Linked DNA regions of Homo sapiens. The protein of the gene in region 1 interacts with the protein of each later gene in a pairwise test. Each region holds a gene or a part of one and is shown in the gene's direction. Other genes may lie near its edges.

Evidence for each region.
Region 2: the proteins of DGCR2 (region 1) and DOCK4 interact in binary tests that used the Homo sapiens proteins (3 or more experiments, as listed by UniProt).

Annotation. Positions count from the first base shown.
Region 1 is NC_000022.11:19,038,753-19,042,501, reverse strand, and holds part of DGCR2 (integral membrane protein DGCR2/IDD isoform 1 precursor), read left to right. Parts: intron 1-542; coding exon 543-695; intron 696-1,207; coding exon 1,208-1,444; intron 1,445-3,380; coding exon 3,381-3,637; 3' UTR 3,638-3,749. UniProt on the Homo sapiens protein: Putative adhesion receptor, that could be involved in cell-cell or cell-matrix interactions required for normal cell differentiation and migration.
Region 2 is NC_000007.14:112,199,800-112,203,548, reverse strand, and holds part of DOCK4 (dedicator of cytokinesis protein 4), read left to right. Parts: intron 1-3,749. UniProt on the Homo sapiens protein: Functions as a guanine nucleotide exchange factor (GEF) that promotes the exchange of GDP to GTP, converting inactive GDP-bound small GTPases into their active GTP-bound form. Involved in regulation of adherens junction between cells.

The DNA of each region.
Region 1 (3,749 bases):
GGCCTCCTACCAGGAAAGGGCTGTCCCTCACCGCCCCCTGGCTCATTCTTGCTGGGCAACTGAGCACCTTCCTCCCAAGAGCCCAGGCCTCAGACAAAAGGAAGGCTGCTGTTGGACGGACGTGGGAGGCCTGTGTGCAGCCCTGGCCCCTGGAAAAGGATGTGCACCTCTGCAGGAGGGCCGCTCCCCAGCCACACCTGGGGTACACAGCACATGAGCGCAGCCTCCTAGGAGTGCTAGTCCTAGGACAGGAAATCCTAGTTTGCTCCGGTGATGGTCAGAGGGGTGTTGGCACACAGCAGCCTGGGGCCATGGTGAGATGCTCCTCCTGACCTGGGATTCGCTCTTCTGCTTCTGTGCTGTCACCATGTTCTTGATTTTGAGCGGCCTTATTTCACATGTATCCTAAAGATGGTTGGGTGCAGGGAGACACTGTGTGCCTTGTCCACACAGCCCGCCTGGGCAGGAGGACGACAGCATCCCCAGCGTAGCACGAGGGTGGCCCCCTTCTCAGAGCGGCCATTTCCTCCCCTCCCCCTCAGATGGCAACAGTCTGTTTGACTCCATGGCCAGCGGGATGCGCCTGGTCGTCAGCTGCATCTCCTCCTTCCTCATCCTGTCACTGCTGCTCTTCATGGTCCACCGGCTGCGCCAGCGGCGCCGGGAGCGCATCGAGTCCCTGATTGGAGCAAACTGTAAGTGCCCTCTGAGGGCCACAACCCTGGTCCCCATCCCCACCCCAGGTCACCCCATGTCTCCATGAGCTCCCCAGCCCTGGACAGAGAGGGGCAGAGGCAGGTTTGAAGGCCACATGTTGTGGGGTCTGTGTCCTCACCTGTGGGCCAGGAAAGTTCTTGCCAAGACCCTCCTTATTCCCATTGAGCCACAGGGTGGGCAGAACTCGGAGGCCTCTGAGGGTCAGAGGCCCGGATCACCCTTCCAGCTGGAGGGGTGTGGTCAGCCAGAGGCTGGGTCTGACAGAAGTGTCAGCCCAGAGGGACAGGTTGGTGTGGTGAGGGTGAGACATGCCACGGAGCACACCAGGGGTCTCATGGGGATGCCGAATGTGGCCGAGGGGTAGGCAGCGGGGCACAGGTGTGTGCACTCAGGGACGGCAGGCCCAGCCTGGGGGTGGGGGGCTCAGGAGCCAGGCAGCCTGCCCCCAGTGACTTGTCTCTGTTCCCGTTGCACACTTTTGATGGCCCAGTGCACCACTTCAACCTCGGCCGCAGGATCCCTGGCTTTGATTACGGCCCAGACGGGTTTGGCACGGGCCTCACGCCGCTGCATCTTTCTGACGACGGAGAGGGTGGGACTTTCCATTTCCACGACCCTCCACCTCCCTACACGGCATACAAGTACCCGGACATCGGCCAGCCCGACGACCCTCCGCCGCCCTACGAGGCCTCCATCCACCCGGACAGTGTGTTCTATGACCCTGCAGGTGCCTGACTCCCCAGGGAGAGGGAACACCTTGTCAAGTAACCTGGCACGTGGGGCTGAGCCCAGCACTCTTGCCCAGCTGCAGAGGCCTAGGGACCTCACTTCTTTCCGGCTTTGTCTTTGGTTTTTCCTTTAAGGCTTCTCCTGGGGCTGCCCGTGCAGAAGGGGTCCTGATCTCCCTGCCTGGCCGCCCTTGGCAATCTGTGCAGAGAGCTCTGAGAAGGCCTGGGACCCCTCCCTCCTACCTCCCTGCCTTCTGTGAGCACCTGTCATCTGGGCAGCCCTCAGGGCCCTCAGCCCAGCTCTAGAGACCTGGGGAGCCCGACAGTGGTGGTTGTGAAGACAGGGCTGGCCCAGACCCAGGAGCCAATCACTTGTCTGTAGACACATGAGCTAGAGACACCATGGTGACAGCCCCTCCTGTCGTGTCAGGAGGCAGCTCTGTGAGGTGGGAGGAAAGCGTGGCTTCTGTGCTACTGGCCCATAGTTGGAGCCTACCACCCATCTGAGAGTGGGCGCCATTCCTCAAGGCTGTGTAGCTAAGGAGTGGCAGGCCCCTGACCCCTGGCCTGTCTCTGTCTCTGTTGAGCAGTGCAGGTGTCCCATCCCATCTCCCTGTGCATTAGGCCCCCTAACACACACAAACCTGTAGTATATTTGGTAGGCAGTGCCACCCCAAAGTGGCTGGCTCCTTGCATGCCTGCCCATCTCGGCAGAATGGGCATTGTGAGGCTGGGGCTGCTGTGCCTAAAGGTCTCAGTCCTGTTCGTTTGTTTAGTCAGCTGCCACAGCTCTTGCATGATCTGGGGGTGCAGAAAAGACTTGCATTTGACCCCTGCCCTCATGACACAGATTGTCACAGTCTTCCAGGGTAGGACCAGCTTCCTGCAAGGGATGGTGGTGGGTGGCAGCAGATCCCAGACACCTGTGTGGGCCAGGCTGCAGAGCAGGGTGGGGGCTGTGAGGGGCTGGCCGGGAGGGAGGTGCATCACCGGGGCCTTGTGCTGTTAGCTTTCAGAGACAGCCTATGGTAATGACAAGCAGGCAGCCCAGGCGCAGTGGCTCACACCTGTAATCCAGCACTCTGGGAGGCTGAGGCGGGAGGAGGGGTCTCACTATGTTGCCCAGGTTGGTTCGAGACCAGCCTGTGAGACCTCCTTCTCCACAAAAAATTCAGAACTAGCCGTGCATAGTGGGCACAGCTGTAGTCCCAGTTACTGGGCAGGCTGAGAATGGAGGATCACCTGAGCCCAGAATTCAAGGCTGTCATGAGCCATGGTCACGTCACTGCACACCAGTGTGCAATCTTTTAAGATCCTGTCTCTTAAAAGAAAAAAAAAGCAAGTAATAAAGATCGGGCAAAACAAAGCGAGTCGACTGCCTACCACACAGCCTGCCTTGGATCAGAGCTTCCTGCAAACACCTGTGTGGTTTTCCAGGCCGCTCACTGCAGCCCTGTTGCCCACACTCCGGTTGCCACATTCCAGCTGCAGCCCTGAATGTTCTTCCACCCACCTGGGCCCAGTGCCTCCCTGATGACAAATGCCCCTGCCTTCTTGCTGAGCCGGGTCTTCACCTTACTGAGTCTGAGACGGTTTCCCTTTGGGCCCCTCTGTTCTAGTGACTGCTGGTCAGTGTGTCTCCCCTACCTCACACCGATGGTGGGACAGGCCCGTGTCTGCCTTTGTGAGATGGGCCCTGCACCTTGCATATACCAGGTTCCCAGCCACAGGGGGCAGTAGGTACAACAGGTGTCATGTGGGGCAGGCTCCTCCTTCAAAATCTGAGGCCCGGGGGAGCCACCCAGGTCCTGCTCACCACCCAGCTTCAGGGGGGCCTTCAGGCAGGAGGAGTGTCTCCTGGTTTTGCCTAGCTCCCCTGCATCCCCTGTGCCAGGCCCGTACCTGCCTCTGACACCCCTCTGTCTCTTCCTGCAGACGATGATGCTTTTGAGCCTGTGGAGGTCAGCCTGCCAGCCCCTGGGGATGGTGGGAGTGAAGGTGCATTACTCCGGCGCCTGGAGCAGCCTCTGCCCACTGCGGGGGCCTCTCTGGCAGACCTGGAAGACTCTGCCGACAGCAGCAGCGCCCTGCTCGTGCCCCCTGACCCTGCCCAGAGCGGGAGCACCCCAGCTGCAGAGGCACTGCCAGGGGGTGGCCGCCACAGCCGCAGCTCCCTCAATACTGTGGTGTAGACGGCCTGGCCTGTACCCCAACGGTCTGGGAGCACCTGTCTGTTGTAGAAAACACCGGTCCCTGGGGAGACTTGAAAGGCCCCTGTCCCAGCCTGGACGCCACGCACTGCCG
Region 2 (3,749 bases), on another chromosome or scaffold:
CAAAGGTACTTTTTATATACCCTCATTTATGTATGAGATAATTATGCTTTTATATACTTATGATTAAATTTTAAGCAGCATACTGTAAACATGGGTAAAATTAGTTAAATTTTATATCTGTAATTAAATGTATCGGAGATGGAAATTCTTTTTCGTAACTGATGTATAGGCACCGTCCCATTTAATGAATGATTAAATTCATTAAAACAACGAAAAGTCAGTCATAAGTGTTCTGATTTTAGGAAAAGGTATAGTGATGAAGTTATAGTTCTGAGGAACAGGGAACCTTGTCTTTTAGAAATCATGTTAAGAGGCACAGTGATAGGCAATTTCACCTTAGGAGATTCTAGTTAGCTCTTGATTCTGGGCTAGACACTGCTGCCAGCTGTGTAACCTTAGGTAAATCACTTAGCCTTTCTGGGTCCCAGCGTCTGGGGCAAGTGTTAACTAAAGCCTTCCCTGGTACTAATTTTGTAGAGCTCTTCCAACTAACTGTGTTCTTTGGTTAGAAAAACATCTTCATTGTGTTGAGACTGCTATGACAGAGACACTTTTGTTGTGACATATCTCACTTGGTTTTTAAGTAAGATCAGAGGTAAGCAAACGCTACCTGGCAAGCTGCCAGAACTGAGGTGCTGGTTCCTCTCTTTCTCAATTTGTTTGATTCTCTCTGGCTAGTAGGAGCTCCATGGGCAGTGACTGAAGCATTTTGTTTGTTTTTTAAATGTATTTTCCTTGACAAATAATAATAATATATTTTTTAAGTTTTCATTTTTTTTTTTTTAATTTAGAGACAGGGTTTTGCTCTGTTGCCCAGGCTGGAGTGCAGTGGCTATTCATAGGCGCCATCATAGTGCACTATAGCCTGTAGCCTCAAGCTCCTGGTTGATCGCCTCAAGCAATACTCCCACCTCAGCCTCCTGAGTAACTGGGATTACTGACATGCACCTTCTCACCCAGCTGTATATATTTATGGTGTACAGTGTGATATTTTGATGTACGTTTACAGTTGGAGTGATTAATCAGGCTATTAACAAATTACACCTCATATAATTACCATTTTTGTGGTGTAAAAAACATTTAAAATCCATTCTAGCACTTTTGAAGTATACAATGCATTGTTATTTATTGTATCTCCATTCTGTGGATATCACCTCCCATCTGTTAGAATGGCTGTATAAAAACAATGAAAGGTAACAAGTATTGGTGAGAGTGCAGAGAAAAGGGAACGCTGTGCACATGTTAGTGGGAATGTAAATTAATACAGCTGTTATGTAAAACAGCATGGAGGACCTTCAATGAACTAAAAATAGAATTACCATATGATCCAACAATTCCACTGCTTGGTATATATTCACAGGAATTGAAATCAGTATGCTGAAGAAATATCTGCTATCCCATGTTCATTGAAGCAGTTCTCAAAATGTCTGAGATATGAAAGCAACCTAAGTGTCCATCATCAGATGAATGGGTAAAGAGAATGTAGTATCTATACACAATGGAATATTATATAGTCTTGAAAAAGGGGAAAATCCTGTCATTTTCAGTAATGTGGAGGGTATTATAGTAAATGAAGTAAGTGTAAGTCTGGCACAGAAAGATAAGTACTGCATGATCTTGCTTACATGTGCAATCTAAAGAAGTTTACTTCATAAATATAGAGATTAAAGTGATGGTTGCCAGAGTCTGGGGGAAGAGGGTGGTTGGGGAAAGTGGAGATGATGATCAAAGTGTACAAAGTTTTGGTGAGACAGGGGGAACATGCTTTAGTGATCTATCGCACAGAATGGTGACTAAAGCATTCTTGATCGCATACTCACCAATTTCCTCAGATTACCTCTACCTCCTGCATGTCCTCATCTGTTAGCACACCCCCCCATTCCTCCCCCCTCCCCACCCCGCCTTAAAGTGGTGGGAATTATTCATGGAGAAAGCTAAGACCTTTGCAGATTGTTTTTGCGTTCATTTGTCCAACAGGCTTTTATGCACAGATTCACAGATGAGTCATGGCATCTTCCTGAGCTGAAGGCTGCACCCCTCAAACCTAGCCAGATGTTTTACATGTGTGAGCTTAGTTAAGCTTGACAGGAGAACACGGGCTGGATTGATCGGTGCAGAAAATCCATGAACCTTATAAGAAACAAAACTCAGAACAAGCTGATCTGAAGTCACAGTGTCATTTAAAAAATAAATTGTGTGGTGCGAGTATCACTCAGTCATCACATAAATTCCTGTATTCTATTTTTCTTGAAGGAGTTTTTGAACTCATCTGGGTAGGAATCATGTTCCTTTTTAAAGCCCCTTCTATGTTGGTGGAAGAAGATGCACCTTCTCGTATTCATACAGGATAGTTAGGTGTCTTTCTCCTTAGAAAGATGCTTTAATCATAGCGTATGTGTGTGATAGAGCGTAATAAGGATGTGTTTCCTTTACTCTTAGTTTTTTGTAGTTTCTTAGCTAACAGTTTCTTAAAGTGTTTTCTATTAGTGGTCCTATGATGTATCTACATAGCATGTAAAGCTAAATAATAATGTTCTGCTTGGAATTGTTTGTGACATTTAGAGCCTGACACAGGATTCTAAACTTTAAGTGGGAATAGAAGAGAAATGATTTATACCTCCCAGTAAAATACCACCGAAGGGCCATACAGACAGTGGGATAGCAGCTTATGTTCTTGATCTGGCCTCCTATGGGAATGGTCTATAAAAATGTTCCCCTCTTTTGGTCATTCCCCTAAGTGACAGTTCTTCACAAGGCCCCTGAAGCCACATAGAGATGCTGCTCTTCCTCTATGATCTTGTTTTTTTTTGTTTTTTTTTTTTTATTTTAGAGGCTGTTATGGTAGCTAGTACGAGGGAGATTATACAAATTTCAAGAAATTTAGGATTTCCTATCTCTAGCTCTATTCTTTTCCAAAAGGAGACAACATTTTCTGAGTTATGTTTGATACAATATGTCTATGTTTCTATCACAGTGACTTCATGCTGTGAATATATACATCAGAGGAACATTAAACTCTAATGAAACCCTTCTAAAAGGCTGTAACCGTAACACAGTAATACAATGTTTTACTTAAAAAGTGAAATTATTTTATCTGAGTCTACCCTTTGAAGTTGAATGGTAATTTCTATTTAAGAGATGAGAAAACAGTTTCATAGAGTTTAAGTGACTTACTCTAGATTAGTAGCTTTTAATCTTGTTTGACTATTACCCATAAGAAATATAGTTAATTTCCTGACCTAGTATATATATAAATATCCCCCAGTACCACCCCACACACATATAATTAAAACAGCACTTGCTTATACTCTATGTAATGTTCTATTCTTTTTTGTTAAAAAAAATACTTGTCACTAAATTGACTTGTTAATGGGTCCTGACCCACAGTTTGAAAAACACTGCTTTAAATGCTACATTTGTGATACCAGAAGGACTGCAACTCACATCTTACTGGGTTTCTGTGAAGTTCCTTTCATGACATTGGCAAGGAGTTGATGGTGGTGGTGGTTATTGTCTTTGATAGTCAGATATGTGGGTTTATTTTAACAAAGAATTTAATTATCCTTTTTTCCTTCAGTCTAAGTCAAAGTCTGTCTTCTGTAGTATTTCTTATTAAAGATGGAACAAATATTTAAAGCCATCACATGCATTGCGTAAGTTTTCTCTTTTAGTACTTGTATGTCTTCCTACCAGGACCTTTTTGACAAGGATTACATAATGACCAATATTAGACTCTTCTGTATCATGTC